Regions from separate parts of the Homo sapiens genome. Here region 2 is linked to region 1. Evidence: fine-mapped expression QTL. A gene starts in region 1. The other region holds a variant in brackets. All regions are shown on one strand. Distances are between the middles of the regions.

The links. PIP is the estimated chance that this variant, and not a neighbour inherited with it, causes the effect.
Region 2: its variant is fine-mapped to the expression of CCR2 in whole blood (INTERVAL, PIP 0.93).

What each region holds. Positions count from the first base shown.
Region 1 is chr3:46,342,613-46,357,487 of GRCh38, reverse strand. It overlaps CCR2 (C-C motif chemokine receptor 2), which reads right to left and starts at 3,377. Exons shown (of 2, transcript NM_001123396.4): 1 at 3,311-3,377; 2 at 1-11. RefSeq lists an enhancer at 7,111-7,260 and a silencer at 12,753-12,959.
Region 2 is chr3:46,246,060-46,261,371 of GRCh38, reverse strand. The region is part of intron 1 of CCR3 (C-C motif chemokine receptor 3); the gene reads right to left. Among named protein-coding and RNA genes, the nearest start is that of CCR3, 11 kb to the right of the region's middle. The variant T/A (reference allele first, on the strand shown) is at 10,702.

The sequences.
Region 1 (14,875 bases):
CTTTCTCTGTTCTGTAAACAAAGAACAAAATGATGACCACACAACACAAACACCGCAATCCATGATCTTCCAAATAGTCTGGCACCACATAAGCAACTTCCCAGTCTTTGCCCTCTCCCTTGCAGCCATCTCCCTGAAAGCATGTGTGCCAGTTCCTGATTTGCCTTTCATTCCTAGTGGCAGACATCAATGATTTACCCAACAGCCATTTTCCGACACCCTTTATCTTCCCCAGCAAACCAGATTCTCATTTTCAGGCTAAAAGCGCTGGGCGTTTGTTTTCTCTGGCTCCTTTGCAGGTGGTGCATAGGTCTGTGACTCATTGCTGGACCATAATATGAAAAGGGAGTCTGCTGGGGGCTTCTGAGAAAGCTCTTCTTCCCTGATAAGACAGACACAAGAGAACCCTCCACCTGCCCCTCCTGCTCTGGCAGCATGCCTAGTGAGGGCATGGTGCCATGAATGGAAGACCTAGAGAACCATGAGAAGCCAGGCAGAATCCTATTATCACTGAGTCCTAAACCCACCCTTGAACTATTCACCTTCTGCCTTCTTTTTTTTTTTTTTTTGGAGACGGAGTCTCGCTGTGTCTCCAGGCTATAGTGCAGTGGCCATGATCTCAGCTCACTGCAACCTCCACCTCCTGGGTTCAAGTGATTCTCCTGCCTCAGCCTCCTGAGTAGATGGGACTATAGGCGTGCACCACCATGCCCCGCTAATTTTTGTATTTTTAGTAGAGATGGGGATTCACCATGTTGGCCAGGATGGTCTCGGTCTCTTGACCTCCTGATGCACCCGCCTTGGCCTCTCAAATTGCTGGGAGAAAAACAAGCCCCTGTTTTAAAGCCATTATGAACTGCATTTTCTGTTCTCTGAAGTCAAAAACGTTCTAACTGATGATTCTCTCAGCTTTCTGCCTCCATCATCCTGCCAAAACTTCTCTTGTTAAGATTGCAGTGACAACCCAATTTTTCAAATGCCCTGGTTTTATTCCAATTCCACCCTCTTCAAGTATTTGATCCTTCTGCTAACTTCCTCCATTTACAATTCTTTTTGGCTTCCAGATGGGAGGGGCTGTGCTACCGCTTTTTATTCATGTTCTTTGCTGGCATCTCCTCCCCGTGCCCACACCTTAAGATTCCCCAGGCACCACACTTAGCTCTCACCTCTTTAATTTTTTGCCTCTTTATCCTTGCTACAAAGTTCTTCCTGAATTGTATTGTCTAAACTCATGGTTCCTACTCCCTTCTATGCTACTGTTTTCTAAAGCTCTGTCTTCAAGCTCCAGCTTTCCCCTAAGCCTTAGAGTTGAATTTCCCATTGCCTGATGCATATCTCCCCATGCATGTATTCACTGCATCAACACTTATTGAACACCTACTATGAACCATACTCAGTTTTAGGCACTGAAGTGAGCAAAGTGGGTATCATGCAGGGACCTCAAATTCAACCCACCCCAAATGGGGCACTGCTGAAAACTCCTTCCGATTGTGGATTCCTCCATTGCCTAAGAAGCAAAATTGGGCATTGCCCTGGGTTGCTTCTCCTTCTGAAAATTAGGAGCCAGTTTTTGGAGCCAAACAAACCTGGATTTGAATCCTTATAGGCAGTGTAATCTGGGGCCAATTACTCCTTCAAGTGCCGATTTCTTTATGCATAAAATATTAACTATGCTGAGTTGCTGTGAAGATCAATGGAGTAAGGACTTAGGACAGCATCTGACACAGAGAAATGCCCTGTATTATTATCATGTCATTTGAGTTCCACCTCATAGATGCCTCTCAGATTCATCCCCTCTGCACTGCTTTCAACTGTCACTTTCTTGCTTCACACACTCCTCACTCCTGGCTTTGTTGTAGTCTTTCCTTTGCTCATGGCTCATCTCAAGCCATGTTCCCTCTCAACCTATCTTCTCTTAAGTTGAAATTGAATAGTCACTCTTAGCTTAAAACCTCCAGTAGCCCTATGACTTATATGTGGTGGGCTTCAAAGATAATGTCCAGACTGCCCAGCACAACATCTTTTCTGAGTTTGCCTCTTTTCAGCCTCACCTCCAGTCCCTTCTCCAATCCCAAATCCTGTGCTTCAGTCACAGCCATCTTCTCTTCATTTTCCCTAAACTCACCATTTCCTTCATGCTTCAGTGGTTTTGCAGGTCCTTGCCCCTCTGCCCAAAATGATTGGTGAGCTTCTATTCACCCTTCAATACCTCCTGCTCAAATCCCCCTTCTCTGTGAAGCCTAATCTGTATCCTCTGTCATATTACTCTTATCACATAACACTGCATGCATCTAGATAAGCACTTATTATGTTATCTGCTACACACAGCATGTTCCTCAAGATCAAGGACTGGATTATGCTTCTATTTTCAGCTCTTATGATAGTACCTGGCTAAAGGAGGCACCAATAAATGTTCACTGAATGAGTACATAAAACTCTTTATAATAAGAACTATAAGCCCTAACATCATCAGGACTTGATTCTCAAGAATTTTTTTTCTGGCAGTGACTGTGAATTTCTTTTCCACCCACCTGTATACTTTATCCTTCCATTTCTCTTGCAATTGACACTTTTCACAAGTCTTGTATTTCATATCACTGAGCCAGATTCTTGAAATCTGGAGAAGCTAAATAAGACCTCTGATCAAAGTTGGAAAAAAATGCATCTGCCTAAAGAATCACAACTGTGGTCATTAATTGAGTGCTCCTGAAGCTCAGATGCTATGTTAAATGCTGTGCACACATTACTTAATTTCATTTTTACAACTGGCTAGCATGTAGCTTCTACTACAGTGAACAATGAGCAAGATGCCTGAAATGTGCTGTCCTAGGTGTCATTTCAAGTGTCAGAACATGTCACCCAGAACTGATAGAAATCTATCTTTCAGAAAATAAATTCCTTACTTCTGCCTCTGTGGATCTCCTGAGTTGAGGCAAGGGACACATTTTGGTTCAGAGCTTGGATGGTCCTATATTTAGACTAACAGTTCCAGCTCTTTAACGTCCTTGGGTGCTCAGAGGGGCAGAGTGAGCCCCTGGGTGTGTGGACTGGTGACTGAGCAGAGTGGCTGTCCTGGCCTCGCTTGCTGCCCACTCTCCCCCATCACCTGCTGCACGCTGCTCTTCCTCAGGGTTTCTCTAACATCTCCTGGTGCACATGCCATCCCCACCCCTGCCTCTCATCTTGATCATTCCCCCCAAGTGTGCAGGCTTTGCAGTTCCCCAGGGTGTACCCAGACCCGGCATTTCCAGCTTTGAGGTGCGTTGAGCCTATGAATCAGAAAGTAATGGAAAAAATGCCTACAACTCACCAGCTTGTGGCTTGTCTCAGGCAGTCCTGGTATGTCAGGCTTCTCAGCAACTGAACCAAACAGATCTAGAGGTAGAAACTTGGCATGCAGAAGTAGGAAATAAAGTTTCCTGCAGAAAGTGAAGGCGGAGATACAGGGCAACTAATGGTAAAGATTTGAAAAAAAAAATCAGAAAAATATAGTTCTTCTTTTCCAGTCAGGAACATTGTACATTGGGTTGAGGTCTCCAGAATAGGATTAATTTTGAAATCTTGCTTATGCAACCTTGAGTGTGAGTCAGGCAAACCCTGTACATCTGCTCCTGTTTCTAACGACTCTGAGCTTCTTTATCTTGTGGGTCTTTATACCTGGAACATTTCCACTCTCTGCTCTCCTACTAGTGATAATTTGCATGATATGAGCACAACAGAATGTTTCATGTTCCAGAGAATAAAGGGTATTGGTGATAGTGGAGGAAGTATAATGAGGTTTTACTGCGATCATGTGTGCTGGTTTCAGTGGTATCATGGATTCAGAATCTGGTTAGAAATTTCATTTAGATAAGACTTTAAAATTTTTTTTTATTTAATTCACATAATAATTGTATATATTTATGGGACACAATGTGATGTTTTGCTACATGTATACATTGTGCAATGATCAAATCAGGGTAATTACATATCCATCCTCTGAAACATTTATCATTTCTTTTGAAATAATAATGATATTGAAAACCCTCTCTTCTAGCTATTTATATATACAGAATTCATTATTAACTACCGTCACCCTACTTGGAGCAGAGCACCAGCACTTGTTTCTCCTATCTCATGGTAACTTTGTACCCGTTGATCAACTGCTGCCCATTCTCACCTCCTCTCTTTCCTCCCCAGTCTCTGGTAACCACTGCTCTACTGTCTTTTTCTAAGATAGCAACTTTTTTTTTTTTTTTAAATTGGGTTTCATTCTGTCACCCAGACCGGAGTGCACTGGCACAGTCTCAGCTCACTGCTACCTCCACCTTCTGAGTTCAAGCCATCCTCCCACCTCAGCCTCCTGAGTAGCTAGGATTACAGGTGTGTGCCATCATGCCCGGCTAAGCAACTTATTTAAAAAAAAATTCCACATAAGAGTGAGATCACGTGGTATTTGTCTATCTGTGTGTGGCTTATTTCACTTAACATCCTCTAGGTTCATCCACATTATCACAAATTACAGGATTTCAAACTTTTTAATGAAAAGGAAATGCTAAATTATCTCTTGTGTCAGGAACGTCCTTAGCAAGAAGAACCTCAGTTATTTTAAATGCCCCTCCTTGGAAAGACGTTTTGTTAAAAGATAATGTAAATTTTGCAATGGGGACATCAGACTAGGAGCATTCCTAAGATTGTGCAGAGAACATGGTGTCATCTAAGTTGGCCCCTGGCACTTTCTGGAATCCAGCAGACACCGGAGGCAGGATCTCATGCTGTGGACTTGGCAAGTTTCTAAGTTTCCATTTCCCAAATATGAAATATGAATAACAAGACTGGGGGTCTATGAGGGTAAATGGACCTAAAGCAGCTAGAGCAGGGTCTGGCAGGCACTCCACAGGTAACAAACAGAACAGAACAGTCTGAGCCCTGCAGAGTGCCAGAGGTTGAAGGATGCATCCACTGCTAGAGCCAACAACAATCAAATGCTCAGGGCAGTCCAGGTGTCCTTTCCAGATTTCAAGAAGTTGGCTTTTTTGCTGTTGTTGTTGTTGTTGTTGTTGTTGTGTTATGTTGTGTTTTTGCTTTCTTTTGCGACAAGATCTTGCTCTGTTGCCTAGGCTGGAGTGCGGTGGCATGATCATGCTTCACTGCAGTCTCAACCTCAAGCAATCCTCTCATCTCAGCCTCCCAAGTAGCTGAGACTACAGGTGCATGCCACCATGCCTGACTATTTTTTGTAGAGATGGGGTTTTGTCATGTTGCCCGGGCTGGTCTCGAACTCCTGGGCTCAGGCAATCTGCCTGCCTCAGCCTCCTGAAGGGCTGGGATTACAGGTGTGAGCTCCTACACCCAGCCCAGATTTCAGTCAGTTGTAACCATGTGTCCTGTGTAAGACCTGGTATATGTGCTAAGTAAGACCTGAGACTTGAAGGGTCTCAGGTTTTTTCTTGGAAGACAGCTCATTGCCTGTTCAGGAACATAGCAAGTTCCCCAGTTGTCTCTCAATGTGTCTCTGGGCCGGAATTGGAGCATATCTCTGAGATTTCAATAATAAGACAGGTCATCCCTGACCTGGTAACACTGAGCTTGCTGCCACTTCTGGAATCTCCTGACCCTGGCATCTTGCCACCTGTTCCTATGATTCAACCCAGGATGGGGAAGAGCAAGAGCCAGAAATTTTGCTCTGGCTGATTAGGACCGCTCTCCAATTTTGTCTTCACATTGTGATCTTTGTCTCCAGCCCTGTAATTTCATAAACAAGGAGAGGCACAGAGGTAGATAGTTGCAGAGCCAGGATTCAAACCTTTGGCTTATACTGACACAGAGGGCAGGATAACAGAGGGCACCCTCCGCTGAGATTTTGAAGAGACAGTATAGAATGAAAATATTTTTGGAGGGGTGAGCAGGCTTAAAAGAAGCAACAGGGATGGTGAGGTGGTCTGTCATCCCTATGCTTTGTGGGAGACCAGAATTTGACACCCTAAAATGTACCTCTTTTGCATAAGGATTGTTGAGCTGAAGGCAATTAAGAAGCAGATGAAGGAAAGCTCTTTTCCCTCCCTTTATTTGTCTAAAAGCAGGATATAGACTTACAAAGACAAAACGGATCTGCACCCCCCTCCACACCTTCTGCCAGGGTGAACAAAGGTTCACCACTGAAGACAAATTTAAATCCTTGTGGACCTGGAGATGGCACCAGAGGAATCTTCATTAACAAGTATTACTAACCAGCCTTTACCTCCATTTATTCCTTTTGCCTTCCTACAAGTCACTGTCCCTAGAGGCTCAAAGTTCATTTTCTTTGTCTTGTCATATCTCTAAAATGTTACTGAACTTTGTTGAAGATGCTATATGAGCTGGAATTCAAAGTCACCTTTTTAAGAATTATTCATTCCCTGGATAGCTCCTATGTACGTATAAAATATGTACGTTAATAAACTTTTCTCGTGTTAATCTGTCTTTTGTTACAGGGGTCCATTCCAAGAACTTATGAGCATTGAGGAAAAAATTATTTTTTTCTTCCTTAACAGCTAGAAGGATCAAAAGAATAAACAATACCACTTGAGTGCTACAGACAGCTGGAATTGAGAGCTGCAGGTTGATGGCTCAGCCACTGCTAGAAGTTCAGCAAAGCAGTAGGACAGCAGGGGCAGAAAGTATCCTAACCTCCTTCTCCCACTCTGACCTCCTACCAGTGCTTCCCAGTGACTGAACCAGATGGGAAGAGGGAATAATGGACAGTCTAGGCAATGTAGCCCCTAAAATCAGCATCCTGGGACTCAGAGTGGATCTGGGGGAGTGTGGCAAATAACCACACAACCGTCAAGTCAAACAAATTTTTTTCTTGCAACTTTCTTCTTACCTCGTCCATATATTAATAGATAGTTAGAAAATTGGGAATCTTGATCAGTACATCTTAGAATTCTTTATGCACACGGAGAGAGTTAAAAAGGATGTTTTTTCATGAGTTTGAGAATTCTGTATCTACCCATTGGCACTGGGTTCATGGTTTCTAAGGTTCCCAGTCTCAATGATGAGTATGGCCCTTCGAGCAGGCTTGAAGGAAAGTATGTCACAAGCCACTGAGCTCTGATGTGCCTGCTGACCAAGCAGGATTACATAGAAGGCAGGGCTGTGGTCACCTCAAGGTGACATGGGGCAAGGAAGAGGAGAAGCTCAATTTTTCTGCAAGCCAATGATATGAGAATAGTTTATGCTCCCCAAATAACAAAAGAAGACCCAGAATGCTGGCCCTAAGATGTTTAAGATCTTGTTTATTTTTACACTCAAGGTCAGCAGTTGAGTTGGGGATTAGGCCATTGAAACTGAAAGTTAGAGTTGTACTCAGAACCTCTCTGCCACTCCATGGATGGCAAGAACATGTGAGAGAAAGCATAGCTAGAGAGAATTGGTGGTGGGGCAAGAAGACAGAAAAGGTTTTTCAACAGCCTGAAGTACTTTAACGATGCCCTTAGCAATTTCCTAAGTAATGGGCAATAGATTTGTTCAGTTAGTGCCTTTAGAAAATAGAGAAATTCTTGCCTCTTGTCAACACAGATGCTTTTGGTTCATTGCGGTTTTTATGGTTTGCATGCTTCCTGTGACCTACTAAAATAGATTAGTGAGTTCTAGGATTTTACATCTTCAATTCTGGTTAAACATGATCTGGACCAATATGATGCCCACAGAAAAAGCAGTAATTATGTTCCTACCTATCCTGGTCAAGTCTTCATAATAAAAATGAAGCAAACTATTACCACTGTTTTTGTCACAAATGAAAAAGTAACACAACAGGGCATAGAGTCACAGCAAGAAAGCCCAGCAACTGCAAATGATTCTTGGAAAGGAAGTGTCAACTAGCAGAGGGCAGATAAGAATTTCTCCTCCATCTTCTAAGTTCAACTTTGTCTCCAGATGAACCAGGAGTAGACAAGAATGTATGATTAGAAATAGAAATTAAAAGAACAAAATGGTAATTTTGACTTAGAGTGTAAATGCAGCAGATTAGATGTCATACCTTTAGGCCAAACAAACTGTAGGAGAAAAAAGGGGAAATCAGAATCTTTAATACATGTACTTGCTAAAAAGCTGTCTCAAGTGACGGAAAGAAATTCATTTGAACCCTATAGTAGGAATTCTTTTGTAGCCTAGATGTTTTAAATGTCTCTGTGATTAAGATCTCAGTATAGATGCCTCAGAGGTAGCCTGCTCTAGGGAGGAATCTGTGGCTGGGGATAGGCCAAGACAGGTATTTAGAAGGCATTTATAGATGTCCCCAAGACTTGGCAACAGCAGGTTGGGAGCCGAGTCTGGGAGTGAGAAGCTAAGATTCATACTCCCCACCAGCATATTCCCTGACACTAAGCTTGGTGAGTAGAAGGAGCAATAGAGGGAGTACTTGCAGGAAGAAGTTTAATGAATATCATTGTGGCTTCTGAGGTGTCCCAGGGAGGGGCACCATGCTATAGAAAACATCAGGAAACCCAGACTGTGCTCATTGTTGGTACAGATGGCATGAGAGGAAACCCACAGAGCTGATGTGGCAGAGGTTCTGATTGGTGAACATGATTAGACTTACCCTGGGTGGGCATGAGTGATGGAGACAATGAGATGGACCCTGACCTACCATGACTGATTGGAGTTGAGCCCAACTGATGGTGACTTTTGCGGGGACCATAAACCTCTGATGGTGGGAAAGAATAAGTGTGTGGAGGACAACTCCTTTGTAATGCAACTTAGGTGTATATATTTCTATTTAAAAAGTAATGCATGCTGAAAGCAAAAGTTGACTCTTTAAAAGATCAACAAAGTTGACAAACCTTTAGCTATGCTAAGACAGAAGAAGAAGACAAAAAGAATACAGAGAAGACACAAATAACTAAGATCAGGTAAGGTGGGGACATTATCAACTTTACAAAAATTAAAAGATTATAAGATAATACTATGAAAAAATGCACACCAATAAATTAAATAACCTAGATTAAATGAACAAATTTCTAAAATACATAAATTGCTAAAAAGTTACTCAAGAAGAAATAGAAAATCTGAAAAGATCTGTAAAAATTAAAGAGATCAAATTGGTAATCAGAAACCTCCCAACACAGAAAAATGTTAAGAACCAGACGGCTTCACTGGTAAGTTCTACCAAACATTTAAAGAAAAATTAATATCACTCCTTCTCAAACGTTTAAAAAATGAAAGAGGAGAAAACACTCCCTCATTCATTCTAAGAAGACAGCATTACCATTATAGCAAAGCCAGACAAATAAACCACAAAAAACCTGTGGACTGATATTGCTTATGAATATAGATGCAAAAACTCTAAACAAAATACTAGCAAACTAAATCCAATGGCATATTAAAAGGGTTATACACCATGACCAAGTGAAATTTATATAAAGAATGCAAATGTAGTACAACATAAAAAATCAACCAATGTAACATCAACACTAATAGAATGAAGGAAAAAAAATCTCACATGATAATCTCAACTGACACAGAAAAAGCATTTGACAAATTAAATACCCTTTATATCAAAAACACTCCAAGAAGTAGGAGTAGGAAGGAACTTCCTCAACATGATAAAAGATATTTGTAAAAAACCCACAGCTAACATTATACTCAATGGTTAAAGACTGAAAAATTTCTCTCTAACATCAGGAAAAAGACAAGAATGCCCATTTCACCATGGTTATTCAACATCATACTGGAAGTTCTAGCCAGGGAAATTAGGCAAGAAAAGGAAATAAAAGGCATCCAAATGAGAAAGAAAGAAGCAAAACTATCTTTATTCACAGATGACATGATATGTAGAAAATCCCAAATAATCCTCAAAAAAACTATCAAAGTTAACAAGCAAATTCAGCAAAATTGCAAGGTATAAGATTGTTGGGAACAGGCCCCCCAAAATCTGGCCATAAACTGGCCCCAAAACTGGCCATAAAAACCGCTGCAGCACCGTGACATGTTCATGATGGCCATAATGCCCACGCTGGAAGGTTGTGGGCTTACCGGAATGAGGGCAAGGAACACCTGTCCCACACAGGGCAGAAAACCGCTTAAAGGCATTCTTAAACCACAAACAATAGCATGAGTGATCTATGACTTAAGGACATGCTCCTGCTGCAGATAACTAGCCCAACCCATCCCTTTATTTCAGCCCTTCCCTTCGTTTCCCATAAGGGATACTTTTAGTTAATCTAATATCTATAGAAACAATGCTAATGACTGGCTTGCTGTTAATAAATATGTGGGTAAATCTCTGTTTGAAGCTCTCAGCTCTGAAGGCTGTGAGACGCCTGATTTCCCACTTTACACCTCTATATTTCTGTGTTTGTGTCTTTAATTCCTCTAGTGCTTCTAGGTTAGGGTCTCCCCAACTGAGCTGGTCTCAGCATAAGATCAACACAAAGAATCAGTTGAGTTTCTATACACCTGCAATGAACATCCAACAGGAAATTGAGAAAATAATTTTATTTACAATAGCATAAAAAAATGCAATACCTAGGAATAAATTTCACCAAAATTTAAAGGTGAAAGACTTGTACCCCAAAACTACAAAACACTGCTGAAAGAAATTAAAGAAGACCTAAATAAAGAGAAAGAAAGCTCATATTCATGTATTAGAATACTTAAAATTGTTGAGATGGCAATGTTACTGAAAGCTACCTACAGTGTCAATGCAATCTCTAACAAAATTTTAATTTTGTAGAATAGAAAAGTCAATCCTCATATCCCTATTAAATTGCAAGAGGCCCTGACAATCTTTAAAAAAGAAAAAGAAGAATATTGCAGTACTCACACTTTCTAGTTTCAAAACTTACTACAAATCTACAGTAATCAAGATAGTGTGATACTGATACAAGGATAGACATGTAGATCAATGGAATAGAATTTAGATTCCAGAAATAAACTCATACATTTATTATCAATTGACTTTCAACAAAGGTGTCAATACTATTATTAAATGAGGAGATGATAGACTCTTCACAAATGGTGCTGGCACAGCTGAATATCCACATGCAAATGAGTAAAGTTGGACCTCTTCCTCACATCATATGCAAAAATTAACTAAAAATGAATCAGCGACCTAAGTAAATGAGTCAAAACTATAAAACTCTTAGAAGAAAATAGAGGGGTAAACCTTCATTACCTCTGATTTGGTTATAAATTCTTAGAGGTGACATCAAAAGCATGAGCAATAAAAGAAATAAATTGATAAATATGCTTCATCAAAATAAACAACTTTTGGGCATCAAAGGACATTATCAATAAAGTGAAAAGACAGCCAGTAAAATGAGAAAAAACATTTGCAAATCATATATCTGATAAGGGCCTAGTATGCAGAATATTTAAAGAATGCATGCATGTCAACAACAAAGACAATCTAGTTTTAAAATGGGCAAAACATACACGAAGAGGCATTTCTCCAAAGATGATATATAAATGACCAAAAAGTACATGAAAAGGTACTCAACATCAATGTTCATAAGGAAAATGCAAAGAAAACCACAATGATATATCACTTTACACTCATTAGAATGGCTATAACAAAAATAGAAAATAACAAGTGTTGTTGAGGATATGGAGAAATTGGAACTTGCTTACATTGCTAGTAGGAATATAAAATGGGGCATCAGATTTGGAAAACAGTTTAATGGTTCCTAAAAAAAAATGCTAAACATAGGATTAGCATATAACCCTGCAATTTCATCTTAGATATATACATAAAAGAATTGAAAATAGGTAACCAAATTCTTGTACACAAATATACATAGCAGCACTATTCACAATAGTTGAGAGATGGAAACAACCCAAATGTCCATAAACCAAAAAATGGATAACAAATTGTGGTCTGTATACAGTTATTCATAAAAAGAAATGAAGTACTGATACATGCTGCAATGTGGATTAGCCTCAAAAACATGCTTGGTGAAAGAAGCCAGACATAAAAGGTACATATTGTGCCTCCATTTTTATGGAATATCCAGAATAAATAAATCCCTAGAGACAGAAAGCAGGTTGGTGGTTGCTAGGAGCTAAGAGAGGAAATAATGGGGAGTAACTGCTTAATGGGTACAAGGTTTTATTTTGGAGTGATGAAAATGTTTTGGAAGTAGAGCTAGTGGTTGTACAATATTGTGAATATAATAAATGCCACTAAATTTTTCATTTCATGTTATGTGAATTCCACCTCAATAAAAATGCATTTACCATAGAAAAATCAAACATAGAAAGTAAAAATTAAGGGGTGCATAATCATTTATAATTTCATGACCCCAAAACAACATGTTAGTATTTTAGGTTACTTCTATCTGCCCCATCTTCCCCCAATTTATAGGTTTGTTTTTGCTGTTAGTATTGTTTATATGGCATTGTAGGCTTATTATATATATCCTTTTGTACCTTTTTGTTTTTCTACTAGCAACCCCAAATTTTTCCATGCTGTAAATTATTCATAAACATAATTTTAATGGCTGCTGCATACTGGTCAAATGGTTCATAGATTTGTCATTCAACAAATGAGTACTCAGGAGTCTATACCATTTTACATCCATTGTTTGTCCAGAAGACATGACAATGGGTATAAAAAGGTGAATAAAACATACCCAGCTGATATGGTTTGACTGTGTCCCCACCCAAATTTCATCTTGAATTGTAGTTCCCATAATTACCACATGTCATGGGAGGAATCTGGTGGGAGGTAATTGAATCATGGAGGCAGATTTTTCCCGTGCTGTTCTTTTGATAGTGAATAAGTATCACAAGATCTGATGGTTTTATAAAGGGCAGTTCCCCTGCACACGTTCTCTTGCCTACCACCATGTAAGACGTGCCTTTGCTCCTCCTTTGCCTCCCTCATGATTGTGAGGCCTCCAGCCATGTGGAATTGTGAGTCCATTAAACCTCTTTTCTCTTTATAAATTACCCAGTCTCAGGTATGTCTTTACTAGCAGCATGAAAACAGACTAATACGCCAGCCTTGGCCCCAAGAAACTTTTGTGTTCCAAGGTGTTAGTCCAAACTACACCATTTTGTAAGCCCCCTGCTATTTCGCAGACCCTGGTCAAAGTGAAACATTCCATGGGGGTTCAGGCTGTGAGAAACATCCTGTCTAACTACCTGATTCCAAGGCACAGGAACATCCTTATCATACCCTGCCAGGCAAAGGCCCACCTGAAGGAACATCCCTACCACATTCTGCTGGGAAAAAGTGCAAGAAGCATCACACTCTATGGAAGCAAGGACCAAACTGCCTCATCATGGGAACGTCTTATCAACATCTTCTTGGGCAGCAAGCCATACTGCTCAGACCCCACCCACCCAGGCCTATAAGTACCCCCAGACCTATAAGTACCCCAGCCTATAAGCAGTGGGGGGCTCTGGCATTAAGCTGGTCCCCACCTTTGCAGGTTTTTCTAATATACCTGTATTGCTGTAGAACCGCTCTCTCTCTCTCTCTGTCTCTCTTTCTCTCTCTATGTCTCTCTTTAACCCTTACCTTCTCTTTAAAAAACTTAACACAATGTAGGAGAGAGATGTTAAACAAACAAAACACATTAAATATAGAACTACAAATTTTTATAAGTATTTGGACAAAATGATAGGATCTTATTAAATCAAATTTGTACTGAAGAATCAGAGTAGACATCTTTGAAAAAATATTTTAACAGGTATCTAAAATACGAAGAACAAATATGAATTGACTAGACAAAGGGAGTTAATGATGATGGTGGTGGTGATGATGATGATGGTGACAGTGATGGTAATGTAGTGGATGGTGACATGACATGCCATGATAATGATGAATTTGGTAATGCAGACACTTATAAATACTATAGGCACTGTTAGATTGCTTTACATATATAGGTCACATTTAATGCTTATGAAAACTTTATGAGCTCAAAACTATTATATCATATTTTCTCTTGGGATTAAGAGATTAAGTTATTCTCCCTAAATCAACTCAGTGCTGGGATCCAAGCTCAAGCAGTCTTGCTCTACACCTTTGCTCTTAATTACTGCATAAAGAATTCCAGGTAAAGTTAACAGTGCATGCGAAGGCCAGGAAATAGAAAAAACTAATCTTAAAAATTATGTGTGTATTTTATTTTTTTAATGGACAACTTAAATCTACAGAAATATTCAAAGGATAATGATAGAATATCTGTGTACCTGCTGCCCAACTTTAACAAATCTTATTTTGCCATATTCGCTTCATTGTGTAAAAAGTAAAAATTTGGAGCTGCAACTAAAATTTCCTTGTGTACCCGCTCCCACTCCCCATTTCTCCTTCTTTCTCTCTCTTTCCCTCTCCACTGTCAACACTTGTTCTAAATTGGGTGTTTATTATTCACATGTTTTATTTATTTATTTTTTACTATATGTGTAATATTGTTAATGTGCTTTAAATAAAAATAAGACATACTGCTTGTACCATTTACAACTTACTTTATGATTCAAAGATTTATCCCAGTAGTATAATTGTCCCTTTTGGGCAAATTCCTAAAAGTAGGAGTACTAGGTCAAAGAACATGTTCACTTAAAATTTTTATGCATAATAGAGAAGCCCAGTGATAAGACTACTTTTGAAATAGTCCTAGTGAAAAATGTTTTCATCTGGTGAGATGGAGCATACTTTATGCAATATTCCATTTCATGAATAAACCAAAACTTTTAAAAAGCCATCTTCTGCTGCTGGTAGACATAGTAATTGATTCCAATTTTCCAGTACCTAACAATGCAACAATGGCCTCTCTTTAGATATTTATGCAGAATTTCTCTAGGGCATACTCCTAGGAGTAGAAATGTTGGGCTATAGGGTAGGTGCTATAGTTTGAAAATGTCTCCCAAAAAGTATGTATTAGAAACTTAATTACCATTGCAATAGTAT
Region 2 (15,312 bases), 96 kb after region 1:
TTCTATTGATATCTTATTTCTGTGCTAGAGACACTTTTTATTGTAGATTTATTAGATGATTTATATAGATGATCTTATTATGCAACTCCCTTTCATTATACATTTCCAAATGTCTTACCTATTAGAGCCATTTGTTTTATTAAACTTTAGGATCATCTACTCAATTACTTATAAAAACATAAGTTTGGGTGGAATTGTGTTACATTTGTAAATAAATTTAGGAAGAATTGATAACTTTACAATATCAAGGTTTTATACCTGGGAATGTGATTTTGATCTGTTTTGAAGGTTATTTAAAGGTTATTTCAACATGAAGAAAGAGGATAATAAAGAACAAAAGTTAAATGAACATAGAAAGTAGGAGGGAGAGAAAGAATGAGAGAGAGAATCTTATGTGGTTAAACTGGATAAAATTGAATGAATTTATTACAAGGATTTTAAAATGGGCTTTCAATATCAAAGTACACTGATGCAAAACTAGAATTTGGTCTTCTTTCTGTTAAAAACCACAAAGTTTTCTTGGATTATTAGTCTACTCTTGATAAGAGTAATGAAAGTGTTTTCTCTGCCTTTTAAGTGATCTGCCTAAAAGAGCAGATTTTATTTCTCATCAAAATAATTTCCTCTGCCTCATGTTGTGTTTATCAAGATCTTTGATTACTTAAGAAAATAGAGTTATTTGTGTTACAGGAACTAAGATTTTTCATTTTTGTTTTCTTAACTATTGCCCAAGACCATTGGAACTCACCTCTTACATCTGCATAACCTGGATGCAAGACATGGAGTCAAAGGAGATCATTCTGGAGCTTTAAGGTTTGACTGCCCTGCTGGATTTTGAATTTGCATGGGGCCTGTAGCCCCTTTGTTTTGGCCAATTTCTCCCATTTAGAATGGCTGTATTTACCCAATGCCTGTACCCTCATTGTATCTAGGAAGTAAGTAACTTGCTTTTGATTTTACAAGTTCATAGGCAGAAGGGACTTGCCTTGTCTCAGATGAGATGTTGGACTGTGGACTTTTGAGTTAATGATGAAATGAGTTAAGACTTTGGGTGACTGTTGGGAAGGTATGATTGGTTTTGAAATGTGAGGACATGAGATTTGGGAGGGGCCGGGGTAGAATGACATGGTTTGGCTGTGTCCCCACCCAAATCTCATCTCGAATTGTAACACCCACAATCCCCATGTGTCGTGGGAGACACACGGTGGGAGGTGATTGAATTATGGGGGTGGGTTTTTCCTGCACTGTTCTCCTGATAGTGAATGAGTCTCACGGGATCTGATGGTTTTTAAAAGGGGAGTTTCCCTGCACAAGCTCTTCTTCTCTTGTCTGCCACCATATGAGATGTGCCTTTCACCTTCCCTCATGATTGTGAGGCCTCCCCAGCCATATGAAACTGGAAGTCCAATAAAACTCTTTCTTTTGTAAATTGCCCAGTCACAGGTATGTCTTCATCAGCAGCATGAAAATGGACTAATACAACTATGTAACTTTCTGTATTTGCCTTTGAAATCTTTTACTTGTCACTTTGGCTAAATGGATACCTAAGTATTGTTTCACAGTGAACTATGATCCTATTTAATCAAGTGCTTTAAATCTTTAGACATTTTTGACAACCTTCCTAAATCAATTCTACATACAGTCTTTTTTTACCTTAAGCTAACTTTGGAATTTTGCAGAGAGCCTCTGGAAAAACCTCAAAGGAATTTATTCTCTCCTTATATTATAAAAAGAGAGATGTTAGACTAATTAAGTTTATTTAACATATTACATTGCATGGGAAGAACTGCCAAATAAGAAATAATGTTAAATCTTCTTTATGTTATATTTGTATAGATATATCTTATTAATATGTGTTTCAGAAATTATATGAATTTCCTAAATATCAGATATGTCCTGGTATAATTTTACCAGCCATGTGTTGTATATCAGCCATATGTTGTATATATTTTATCAGCCAAAATGTTGTATATCACAGAAATAACCAAATTTCTTCTTCAACTGCATTATAGTAAATTCTCAGGGGCATTTTAAACCATTGTTCATCCACAGCAGTTATTGTTTTACTCTGGTGCTTTCCTGAAAGCTTTTGCAAATACCTTATGGTACAAAATGACATGAAATTCATAGAAAGACTCTGACACATACAGGTTTCTGACAGTTTTGAACTAGGGTTGTTTCTAGCCTTACAGTCCTGCAAGCTGAAGTTGAATTACCTAAAATAAACTTCAGAGAAATCACCACAACAGCTTGTATATGAACATCTTTTGTGCATGTTGCTGCACAGCCACTCAGAAAGTTCCCTGGACCTCCACTGACATTACCAGAGACATTCAAACTGCAAGCCAAGAAAATCTATTAGAGTGAAACAGCCATATTTTTTAAAATGCTGTTTCTATGTCATTGAATCAGGAATTGTAGCCCTAAATCTTAGAGATCTAAGAGATCAGATCCTACTATTCTACCAGATCAGGGAAGCACAATTGATTGGCTAAATCTTGGCTCTTAAGTAGGTTGGTTTGGTTGGTTTTGGGGTATTTTTCAGACTCTTGGTATTATCCTCCTATTAGTCATATTGATAATATCCCTTATGCAATGTAGTCTCACAAGGATCTTAAATGCTTGTCAGCAGCCACTAACTCAACAGTTGATCTCCGTGAGGATTGAAAACCAAAACTATATGAATAAGAGTCATCAAAATAACTTACTGAGATTCTAGTTTGTGACCTATAAATGTCTACAGAAAGGAAAGCAACATGTAGTAACCAAGGGTAATAGCCAGTCACATTCTCAGTTCAAGCGAGAGGATGACCAAAAGTGGGGAATTGTTAAAGAAAAATAAAAATGAAGGCCACAGTTTAGATATGTCCCAAGGCCCAGTGCTGATCATATTCTTGAAAAACACAATCCCAAATGCTATAATGTTGAAATCCCAAAAGATCAAAATCACAATCCTAAAAGACTAAAATTCCTAATGTTGAAATCCTGAAAGCTGAATTCTGGGGAAGGATTAGTGCATTTCTGGTTGTACACACCGTAGTTGCATAATGTTAGTTGCATCGTGTTAAGAAGAACTATTACTTGCTATTATCTTTATTTGGAAATTAAGTATGGTTTAAGGAGATGTGTATGCATGTCAACTTGACAAAGGGTGGATCTGTGGACTTAATTTTAGATGTCAACATGACTGAGTAAAGGAATAACTAGAAACTTGTTGAAGCATTGTATTGAGTGTGTCTGTGAAAGTGTTTCCAGAGATTACTGTGTGAGTCTGAGTGGATTAGGTGGGAAAGATCTGCTTTCAGGGTTGACAGGCACCATCCAATCAGCTGGGGGCCTGAAGAGAACAATTACAGAACGCAAATTGGTCTGTCTTTGAGAGCTGGAACAGACTTTTCTTCTGTTGCTTTAGACATCAGAAATCCAGGCTCACCAGCCTTTGAACTATACAACTACCCACCTCCCCCAACTCAGTGGCTTTCAGCCTAGGACTGAGAGTTACAACATTGGCTTCTCTGTTTCTGAGGCCTTCAGAGTTACACTGAGCCACACTACCTGTATTCCAGGGTCTCCAGCTTGTAGATGGTCTGTTGTGGGACTTCTTAGCCGCCTTAATTGTGAGCCAATTATCCTAATAAATCCCATCTCATATATCTACATACATATCCTATTGGTTCTGTCTCTGGAGAACCCAGACTAATATAGATTTGGTATTGAGGAAGCTGAGTATCATCCTTCTTACTGGAATGATATGCCATTATGGTTTTAAATACTAATACATGTTAAGGACTCTCAAATTGATGTCTTAAGCCCTGACCCAAATTCCTACTCAAAATTTCATCTTAAGTGTCTAATGAGCATCACAATATTCCATTACTCTTCCTTTACTCTCAATGGAAGAGACTGGTGAACTTTTTTCCCAGAAAAAAAAAAAAAAAAAAAAAGCCTGGGACAAGCTAAGTGTATGAGGTTACTTTAATGGTGAAAGATAACAATGTTAAAGTTGATTATTATTGGTGCTACAAAAGCACCAATCCTTTAATTGCAACAGCCAAGCAATAAACGGACTTTTAAATGGACAGCATATACTTAGGCAATGTGTAGACAACAACGACTCTCCAAATACAAGTGCAGCAAGTGTTTTGAAGAGCTTAGAAGTGAAAACACACGGAAAAAATACAAGAAATTTCCCTTGCCAAGTTACTCAATTGTGTATCACTTCTGTTCCTTCACCCCTAGTGCCAATTCACTATGCTATGTATTTAATCTTTGCATCATTTTCAGTAGTGGAGTTATAAACTGTGTAAAGACATTTAGAGAGTTTTATTATGTTTTATGCAATTTTTTTTTGCAAATTTGACTCCTGAAGGTACATTACTACTACAACTTTGTGTGTAAGCATTGTGTGTGTGTGTGTGTGCACAAATGTGAAGACCTCCTTGATAAATAAACAGATGTCCTTTTTGTGCCTCTGTGTTTGTGAAAGATACAATTTCTCGAGGTCTTGGCTCTTTGGGCAACTGGCAAATATGGTGGTGACCCATCATGATTCTCGATTGATCTCATCCAAAGAATTAGGATGTCCATCACAGTATTTCAGATGACTACAGTTTATAAAGCTGGGTGCACACAATTATTAACTATAGTGATATGCATTTATACATTGTGATTTTTTACGCAATTTATTTATGAATAAAATTTTGACACTATTTATTTATGAATAAAATTCATCTGCTCATAACTGTTATACCCTTGTGACTGTTGTTAGTATACCTGAGTGTTTATGCTTGCAAAAATATATATATTATTCCCTATTGTGAAGTGTTCTGTTGTGTTTTTATAAGTTTTTCAAAATAAATCCACCTATAGGAATATAAATAAATGTCTTTTAAATTATTGTTTTCAGAGTTATATTTTCAGGATTTTAATATTTTGGGATTGTGGTTTTGGATTTAAAATTTTAGTCTTTCTGGATTTCAACATTTGGGATTATGGCATTCAGGATTGTGTTTTTCAGGATTACAGCCCAAACTCCTCAAGGCCAACCACCCATAGCCACATAGCCAAGACTGAAGTCATCCTGATTTCCCTGAAAAGCCAGATGTAATAATAAATGAAACACAAAATATAAAGTTTATGTCATTGTCAGCATGATTCAGTGAAATTAAACCAATCTGCTATAGACAAATCAGCTTTAAATGTTCTTGTTGCAACACCATGTTAATGTATAACAGCAAATCACAAAAAAAGTTCAAAATACTGAAAGATCTCTGCAAGGAAAACTACAAAACACTGCTGAAAGAAATCATAGATGACACAAAAAATGGAAACACATCCCATGCTCATGGATGGGTAGAATCAATATTGTGAAAATGACCATACTGCAAAAAACAACCTACAAATTCATGTAATTTCCATCTCAATACCACCATTATTCTTCACAGAACTTGAAAAAAAATCCCAAAATTCACATGGAACCAAAAAAGAGCCCACATTGCCAAAGCAACACAGCAAAAAGAACAAACCTGGAGGCATCACGTTACCCAGCTTCAAACTACACTATTAATATAAGGCCATAGTCACCCAAACAGAATGGTACTGGAATAAGAACAGGCATATAGACCAATGGAACAGAATAGAGAACCCAGAAATAAACCCAAATACTTAAGGCAAACTGATTTTCAACAAAGCAAACAAAAACATAAAGTGGGGAAAGGACACCCTATTCAACAAATGGTGCTGGGATAATTGGCTAGCCATGTGTAGAAGAATGAAACTGGATCCTCATCTCTCACCATAGACAAAAATCAACCCAAGATGGATCAAAGACTTAAATCTAAGACCCAAAACCATAAAAATTTTAGAAGATAACCTCAAAAGAACTCTTCTAGACATTGGCTTAGGCAAAGAGGTCATGACCAAGAACCCAAAAGCAAATACAACAAAAACAAAGATAAATAGATGGGACTTAATTAAACTAAAAAGCTTCTGCACAGCAAAAGAAATAATCAGCAGAGTAAACAGACCACCAACAGATTGGGAGAAAATCGTTGCAATCTACACATCTGATAAAGGTCTAATATCCAGAATCTACAAGGAACTCAAACAAATCATCAAGAAAAAAACAAATAATCCCATCAAAAAGTAGGCTAAGGACATGAATAGACAATTCTCAAAAGAAGATATACAAATAGCCAACGAACATATGAAAAAATGCTCAACACCACTAATTATCAGGGAAATGCAAATCAAAACCACAATGTGATACTGCCTACTCTTGCAAGAATGGCTATAATAATAAAAAAAAAAATAGATGTTGGCGTGGATGTGGTGAAGAGAACACTTTATGCTGTTGATGGGTATGTAAACTAGTACAACCCCTATGGAAAACAATGTGGTGATTCCTTGAAGAATTAAAAGTCGATCTATCATTTGATCCATCAATCCTACTCCTGGGTATCTACCCAGAGGAAAATAAGTCACTATATGAGAAAGATACTTGCACACACATTTATAGCAACACCATGGTATACTACTCAGCCATGAAAATGAATGAAATAATGGCATTTGCAGCAACCTAGATGGAATTAGAGATCATTATTCTAAGTTAAGTAACTCAGGAATGGAAAACCAAACATTGTACATTGTCACTCATAAGTGAGAGCTAAGATGTGAGGATGCAAAGGCATAAGAAAGATAAAATGGACTTTGGGGACTCAGGGGAAAGGATGGGAGGGGAGTGAGGGATAAAAGACTACACATTGAGTACAGTGTACACACTGCTCAGGTGATGGGTGCACCAAAATCTCAGAAATCACCACTAAAGAAATTATTCATATAACAAACACCACCTGTTCCCCTAAAACCTATTGATTTTTTTTTAAAAAAGAACTTTGAACCCAGGGGGGAAAAATACTTCCCCTTTATGCTTTATAAACTATGCTGTAAGTGCTCTAAGTGGGAATCCCTACACTTTCAGATCTATGTCTCCTCACTCCCAAACTGTTCTTTTGTGTGCACAATAAACTTCTGCAACTTTAAATTTTGATCTGATTTTATTTTTGACAAATGTAAAGTTTCTTTTATTCTCCCCTTTCTCAATTTCCTCTCCTCCTCAGAGGGGAGTTTGTTGTCGAGCCCTCTTGATATTTGTTTATGTACTTATACACATAATTGTAAGTGGCTTTTTGGTACATAAATCAGGACCTCACATGGCACCCATTTCATTGCTGGATAATTCTATTCAGGGTGTTCTTGAGTGGTGGCTGAATTTATATACATAATTATAAGTGGCTTTTTGGTACATAAATCAGAGTAGGAAATATCAAGTTTTCTGTGACTTTTTAAACTTTATGTCTTGGAAATCTTTCTATGTCAATACTTGTAGAACTGTCTCATTCTTTGGTACATAAATCAGAGTAAGAAACATCAAGTTTTCTGAGCCTTTTTAAACCTTACATCTTGGAAATCTTTCTATATCAATACTTGTAGAACGGCCTCATTCTTTCTAATAGCGAGATGGTATTCCACTGTGTGGAATTTAAACAGTTTTCTATTAACAGAATTTAGATTACCCACACTGGGCATCAACACAAAATTTACCAGTATAACAAACCTGCACATTTACCCCTGAACCTAAAATAAAAGTAGAACAAAAATACTCCAAAAGAATCCGGTAATTCTAGTTTCCCTTAAAGGTTAACATGTGATGGGGTTAATAAAGAAACTTCCTGCATGTAAACTTAGTTAAATTTAATCTTAATTTAATCTAAATTAATAAAAGTGTTATATGCAGATAGTGGGAAGGATCATTTCACAGCATCCGAAAGTGGTCCAAATATGTCCAGGGCTCATTTAATGCAAACATTGACCAATTGAAATGCAGTCAAGAGGAAGCTTTACCCAGTAAAGATGAGTTGAAGAAGCCAAGCGTATCCATCCTGGAGAAAATCCACTTTGGGGAGGGGAGAGAGTATGATACTGGCTGGGCAGATGAGAATCAGAATTATGTGTGACTCCCTGCAAAGCCTCCCAGAACCAGCAAGAGGTAGTTCAAAGATGCAAATTCAACCACCACTCAAGAACACCTTGAGTAGAATTATCCAGCAATGAAATGGGTGCCATGTGAGGTCTTGAGTGAGCTGTGACTGGAGGAATTCACTCAGAGGCTGAGTGACTTCCTATCAGGGACGGGGTAGAAGGGATTCCCCCAGAGGGAGGAAGATTGGCTAGAGCAGCATTTCTCAGTCCTGGCTGCATGTGGGAGTCACTGGGGAGCTCTTGAAAATCCCCAGCTTATAACCCTGAACAATTAAATCAGAGTCTCTGGAGATGGGGTCTGGCTCTCAGTGGTTCTTAATGCTCTTCTGGTGATTCCCTTGTGCAGCCAAGGTTGACAACTCCTGGACTATGTGACATGAAGTCCCTCCTAAATTTGAACTTTTTTTTTTTAAATCCCTGAGTCATGTAACCCTCCAACCTATTTTAAATGTAGTGGAAAGAAAAGGGGAAACTTAGGGGTAGAATAAAGAATATCCTTAGTTGCAAGTTCTTTAGAAGCTATCACCATGAATGGCAAACACAAGAGCCAATTTAATGGTAGGCTATATTGCTGTATCATCCAGAACAAATGAAATCTACCACCTGACTCTCCATCCACCTCTCCACCAGCTATCCCTTCTTGTTTCCATCCAATTACCCATCTAGATATTCAACTTGCTTCCCATCTATGCAATTAAGCTGATCCCCTCCCACTTCCTTCCCTTCCTTCATTTCTTTTCTCAAAAAACCTGGAGTATCCAGAAAAGTTAGTTATCTGTGCAGTGGTCCAATAGAATTTTTCTGTATTAGTGGAAATGTTCTGTATCTGTGCTGTCTGATAAGAGAGACACTTGGCTGGGTGCTGTGGCTCATGCCTACAATCCCAGCATCTTGAGAGGCCAAGGTGGGTGGATCATTTGAGGTCAGGAGTTCAAGACCAGCTTGGTCAACATGGTGAAACCTTGTCTCTACTTTAAAAAAAAAAAAATTAGCTGGGCAGTAGTGGTGCACCCCTGTAATTCCAGCTACTCGGGAGGCTGAGGCAGGAGAATCTCTTGAGCCTGGGATGCGGAGTTTGCTGTGAGCTGAGATCGTGCCACTCCACTCCAGTCTGGGAGACAGAGTAAGACCCTGTCTCAAAAAAAAAAAAAAAAAAAAAAAAGACAGAAACTAGCCTCATGGCTATTGAGCACTTGAAATGTGGCTACTGCAATTGAGAAACTGAACTTTTCATTTTATTTAATTTAAATAACCACATGTAGAAAGTGTCAGGCCTCTGAGCCCAAGCCAAGCCATTGCATCCCCTGTGACTTGCACATATATGCCCAGATGTCCTGAAGTAACTGAAGAATCACAAAAGAAGTGAATATGCCCTGCCCCACCTTAACTGATGACACTCCACCACAAAAGAAGTGTAAATGGCTGGTCCTTGCCTTAAGTGATGACATTACCTTGTGAAAGTCCTTTTCCTAGCTCATCCTGGCTAGGTGATTTTAAATCACCCCCACTGAGCACCTTGTGACCCCCACTCCTGCCTGCCAGAGAACAAACCCCCTTTGACTGCAATTTTCCTTTACCTACCCAAATCCTATAAAACAGCCCCACCCTTATCTCCCTTTGCTGACTCTCTTTTCGGACTCAGCCCGCCTGCACTCAGGTGAAATAAACAGCCATGTTGCTCACACAAAGCCTGTTTGGTGGTCTCTTCACAAGGATGCACATGAAATTTGGTGCCGTGACTCGGATTGTGGGACCTCCCTTGGGAGATCAATCCCCTGTCCTCCTGTTCTTTGCTCCGTGAGAAAGATCCACCTACGACCTCAGGTCCTCAGACCGACCAGCCCAAGAAACATCTCACCAACTTCAAATCCAGTAAGCGGCCTCTTTTTACTCTCTTCTCCAACCTCCCTCACTATCCCTCAACCTCTTTCTCCTTTCAATCTTGGCGCCACACTTCAATCTCTCCCTTCTCTTAATTTCAATTCCTTTCATTTTCTGGTAGAGACAAAGGAGACACCTTTTATCCATGGACCCAAAACTCCGGCGCCGGTCACAGACTGGGAAGGCAGCCTTCCCTTGGTGTTTAATCATTGCAGGGACGCCTCTCTGATTATTCACCCACGTTTCAAGGGTGTCAGACCACGCAGGGACGCCTGCCTTGGTCCTTCACCCTTAGCAGCAAGTCCCACTTTTCTGGGAAAGGGGCAAGTACCTCAACCCCTTCTCTCCATGTCTCTACCCCTTCTCTGCTTTTCTGGGGGAGGGGCAAGTACCCCTCAACCCCTTCTCCTTCACTCTTAGTGGCAAGTCCCACTTTTCTAGGGGGCAAGAACCCCCAATCCCTTATTTCTGCACCCCAACCTCTTATCTCTGCACCCCAATCCCTTATTTCCTCACCCTGACCTCTTATCTCTGTGCCCCAATCCCTTATTTCCGCACCCAGACCTCTTATCTCTGTGCCCCAATCCCTTATTTCCATGCCCCAACCCCCCTTCCCGCTTTTCTGGAGGGTAAGAACCCCTGAACCCCTTCCCTCCATGTCTCTACTCTCTCTTTTCTCTGGGTTTGCCTCCTTCACTATAGGCAAAATTCCACCCTCCATTCCTCCTTCTTCTCCTTTAGCCTGTGTCCTCAAGAACTTAAAACCTCAACTTACACCTG[T/A]CCTAAAACCTAAACGCCTTATTTTCTTCTGCAACACTGCTTGGCTCCAATACAAACTTGACAATGGCTCTAAATGGCCAGAAAATGGCACTTTCGATTTCTCCATCCTACAAGATCTAAATAATTCTTGTCTTAAAATAGGCAAATGGTCTGAGGTGCCTGATGTCCAGGCATTCTTTTACACATCAGTCCCTTCCTAGTCTCTGTGCCCAGTGCAACTTGTCCCAAATCTTCCTTGTTTCCCTCCCGCCTGTCCCCTCAGTCCCAACCCCAAGCATCGCTGAGTCTTTCTAATCTTCCTTTTCTACAGACCCATCTGACCTCTCCCCTCCTTGCCAGGCCAAGCTAGGTCCCAATTCTTCCTCAGCCTCCACTCCTCCACCCTGTAATCTTTTTATCGCCTCACCTCCTCACACCTGGTCCGGCTTACAGTTTCGTTCCATCACTAGCCCTTCCCCACCTGCCCAGCAATTTACTCTTAAAAAGGTGCCTGGAGCCAAAGGCATAGTCAAGGTTAATGCTCCTTTTTCTTTATCCCAAATCAGAAGCGTTTAGGCTCTTTTTCATCAAATATAAAAACCCAGCCCAGTTCATGGCTCATTCGGCAGCAACCCTGAGACGCTTTACAGCCCTAGACCCTAAAAGGTCAAAAGGCCATCTTATTCTCAATATACATTTTATTACCCAATCTGCTCCCGACATTAAATAAAACTCCAAAAATTAGAATCTGGCCCTCACACCCCACAACAGGACTTAATTAACCTCACCTTCAAGGTGTACAATGATAAAAAAAAAAAGTTGCAATTCCCTGCCTCCACTGTGAGACAAACCCCAGCCACATCCCCAGCACACAAGAACTTCCAAACACCTGAACCGCAGTGGCCAGGCGTTCCTCCAGAACCTCCTCCCCGAGGAGCTTGCTACAAGTGCCAGAAATCTGACCACCAGGCCAAGGAATGCCTGCAGCCCAGGATTCCCCCATCTGTGTGGGACCCCACTGGAAATCAGACTGTTCAACTCACCTGGCAGCCACTCCCAGAGCCCCTGGAACTCTGGCCCAAGGCTCTCTGACTGACTCCTTCTTGGCTTAGCGGCTGAAGACTGACACAGCCTGATCGCCTCGGAAGCCCCATAGACCATCACAGATGCCGAGCTTTAGGTAACTCTCACAGTGGAGGGTAAGTCCATCCCCTTCTTAATCAATACAGAGGCTACCCACTCCACATTACCTTCTTTTCAAGAGCCTGTTTCCCTTGCCTCCATAACTGTTGTGGGTATTGATGCCCAGGCTTCTAAACCTCTTAAAACTCCCCAACTCTGGTGCCAACTTAGACAATACTCTTTTATGCACTCTTTTTTAGTTATCCCCACCTGCCCAGTTCCCTTATTAGGCCGAGATATTTTAACCAAATTATCTGCTTCCCTGACTATTCCTGGACTATAGCCGCATCTCATTGCTGCCCTTCTTCCCAATCCAAAGCCTCCTTTGCGTCCTCTTCTTGTATTCCCCCACCTTAACCCACAAGTATAAGATACCTCTACTCCCTCCTTGGCGACCAATCATGCTCCCCTTACCATCTCGTTAAAACCTAATCACCCTTACCCTGCTCAATGCCAAGATCCCATCCCACAGCACGCTTTAAAAGGATTAAAGCCTGTTATCACTCGCCTGCTAAGGCATGGCCTTTTAAAGCCTATAAACTCTCCTTACCATTCCCCCATTTTACCTGTCCTAAAACCAGACAAGCCTTACAAGTTAGTTCAGAATCTGCACCTTATCAACCAAATTGTTTTGCCTATCCACCCCGTGGGGCCAAACCCATATAACCTCCTATCCTCAATACCTCCCTCTACTACCCATTATTCTGTTCTGGATCTCAAACATGCTTTCTTTACTATTCCTTTGCACCCTTCATCCCAGCCTCTCTTTGCTTTCACTTAGACTGACCCTGACACCCATTAGGCTCAGCAAATTACCTGGGCTGTACTGCCACAAGGTTTCACAGACAGCCCCCATTACTTCAGTCAAGCCCAAATTTCATCGTCATCTGTTACCTATCTCGGCATAATTCTCATAAAAACACACGTGCTCTCCCTGCTGATCCTGTCCGATTAATCTCCCAAACCTCAATCCCTTACAAAACAACAACTCCTTTCCTTCCTAGGCATGGTTAGTGCAGTCAGAATTCTTACACAAGAGCCAGGACTGCACCCTGTAGCCTTTCTGTCCAAACAACTTGATCTTACTGTTTTAGCCTAGCCCTCATGTCTGCATGCAGCAGCTGCCACTGCTTTAATACTTTTAGAGGCCCTAAAAATCACAAACTATGCTCAACTCACTCTCTACATTTCTCATAACTTCCAAAATCTATTTTCTTCCTCATACCTGATGCATATACTTTCTGCTCCTTGGCTCCTTCAGCTGTACTCACTCTTTGTTAAGTCTCCCACAATTACCATCATTCCTGGCCCGGACTTCAGTCCAGCCTCCCACATTATTCCAGAAACCACACCTGACCCTCATGACTGTATCTCTCTGATCCACCTGACATTCACCCCATTTCCCCATATCTCCTTCTTTCCTGTTCCTCACCCTGATCATGCTTGATTTATTGATGGCAGTTCCACCAGGCCTAATCACCACACACCAGCAAAGGCAGGCTATGCTATAGTACAAGCCACTAGCCTGCCTCTTAGAACCTCTCATTTCCTTTCCATTGTAGAAATCTATCCTCAAGGAAATCACTTCTCAGTGTTCCATCTGCTATTCTATGTGCTATTCTACTACTCCTCAAGGATTATTCAGGCCCCCTCCCTTCCCTACACATCAAGCTCGAGGATTTGCCCCTGCCCAGGACTGGCAAATTAGCTTTACTCAACATGCCCTGAGTCACAAAAACTAAAATACCTCTTAGTCTAAGTAGACACTTTCACTAGATAGGTAGAGGCCTTTCCTACAGGGTCTGAGAAGGGCACCGCAGTCATTTCTTCCCTTCTGTCAGACATAATTCCTCAGTTTAGCCTTCCCACCTCTATACAGTCTGATAACAGACCAGCCTTTATTAGTCAAATCAGCCAAGCAGTTTTTCAGGCTCTTAGTATTCAGTGAAACCTTTATATCCCTTATAGTCCTCTGTCTTCAAGAAAAGTAGAACGGACTAAAGGTCTTTTAAAAACACACCTCACCAAGCTCAGCCACCAACTTAAAAAGAACTGGACAATACTTTCACCACTTTCCCTTCTCAGAAGTCAGACCTGTCCTCGGAATGCTATAAGGTACAGCCCATTTAAGTTCCTGTATAGATGCTCCTTTTCATTAGGCCCCCAGTCTCATTCCAGACACCGGACCACCTTAGACTGTGCCCCAAAAAAACTTGTCATCCCTACTATTTTCTATCTAGTCATACTCCTGTTCTCTGTTCTCAACTACTCATACATGCCCTGCTCTTGTTTACACTGCCAGTTTACACTGTTTTTTCAAGCCATCACAGCTGATATCTCCTCGTGCTATCCCCAAACCGCCGCTCTTAACTCTTGAAGTAAATAAATAATCTTTGCTGGCAGGACTATGCTGAATCTCCTTAGGCACTCTCTAATCAGATGTCCTAGGTCCTCCCGATTCTTAGACCTTTTATACCTGTTTTTCTCCTTCTCTTATTCCATTTAGTTTTTCAATTCATACAAAACCATATCCAGGCCATCACCAATCATTCTATACGACAAATGTTTCTTCTAACATCCCCACAATATCACCCCTTACCACAAGACCTCCCTTCAGCTTAATCTCTCCCACTCTAGGTTCCCACGCCGCCCCTAATCCCGCTTGAAGCAGCCCTGGGAAACATCGCCCATTCTCTCTCCATACCACCCTCCAAAAATTTTCGCCACCCCAACACTTCAACACTATTTTGTTTTATTTTTCTTATTAATATAAGAAGGCAGGAATGTCAGGCCTCTGAGCCCAAGCCAAGCTATCCCATCCCCTGTGACTTGCACATATACGCCCAGATGGCCTGAAGTAACTGAAGAATCACAAAAGAAGTGAATATGCCCTGCCCCACCTTAACTGATGACATTCCACCACAAAAGCAGTGAAAATGGCCGGTCCTTGCCTTAAGTGATGACATTACCTTGTGAAAGTCCTTTTCCTAGCTCATCCTGGCTCAAAAATCACCCCCACTGAGCACCTTGCGACCCCCACTCCTGCCCGCCAGAGAACAAACCCCCTTTGACTGTAATTTTCCTCTACCTACCCAAATCCTATAAAACGGCCCCACCCTTATCTCCCTTCGCTGACTCTCTTTTCGGACTCAGCCCGCCTGCACCCAGGTGAAATAAACAGCCATGTTGCTCACACAAAGCCTGTTTGGTGGTCTCTTCACACGGACACGCATAAAAGCAAGTAGCCACCATAGTGGACAGTACAGGCCTAGTGTCCAGCATGATGCCTGACAAATGAAAGATGCTTAATAAACTCTTCTTAAGTGTATGAAAGGATGGAGTAGAATAATTTTTACTCTGCTTTGCACTGTCCAGACTACACATCTGAAATATTATGTTCTGTTCCAGGCACCAAATTTTAAGAGGGTTAGTATCAACCTAGACTATAGA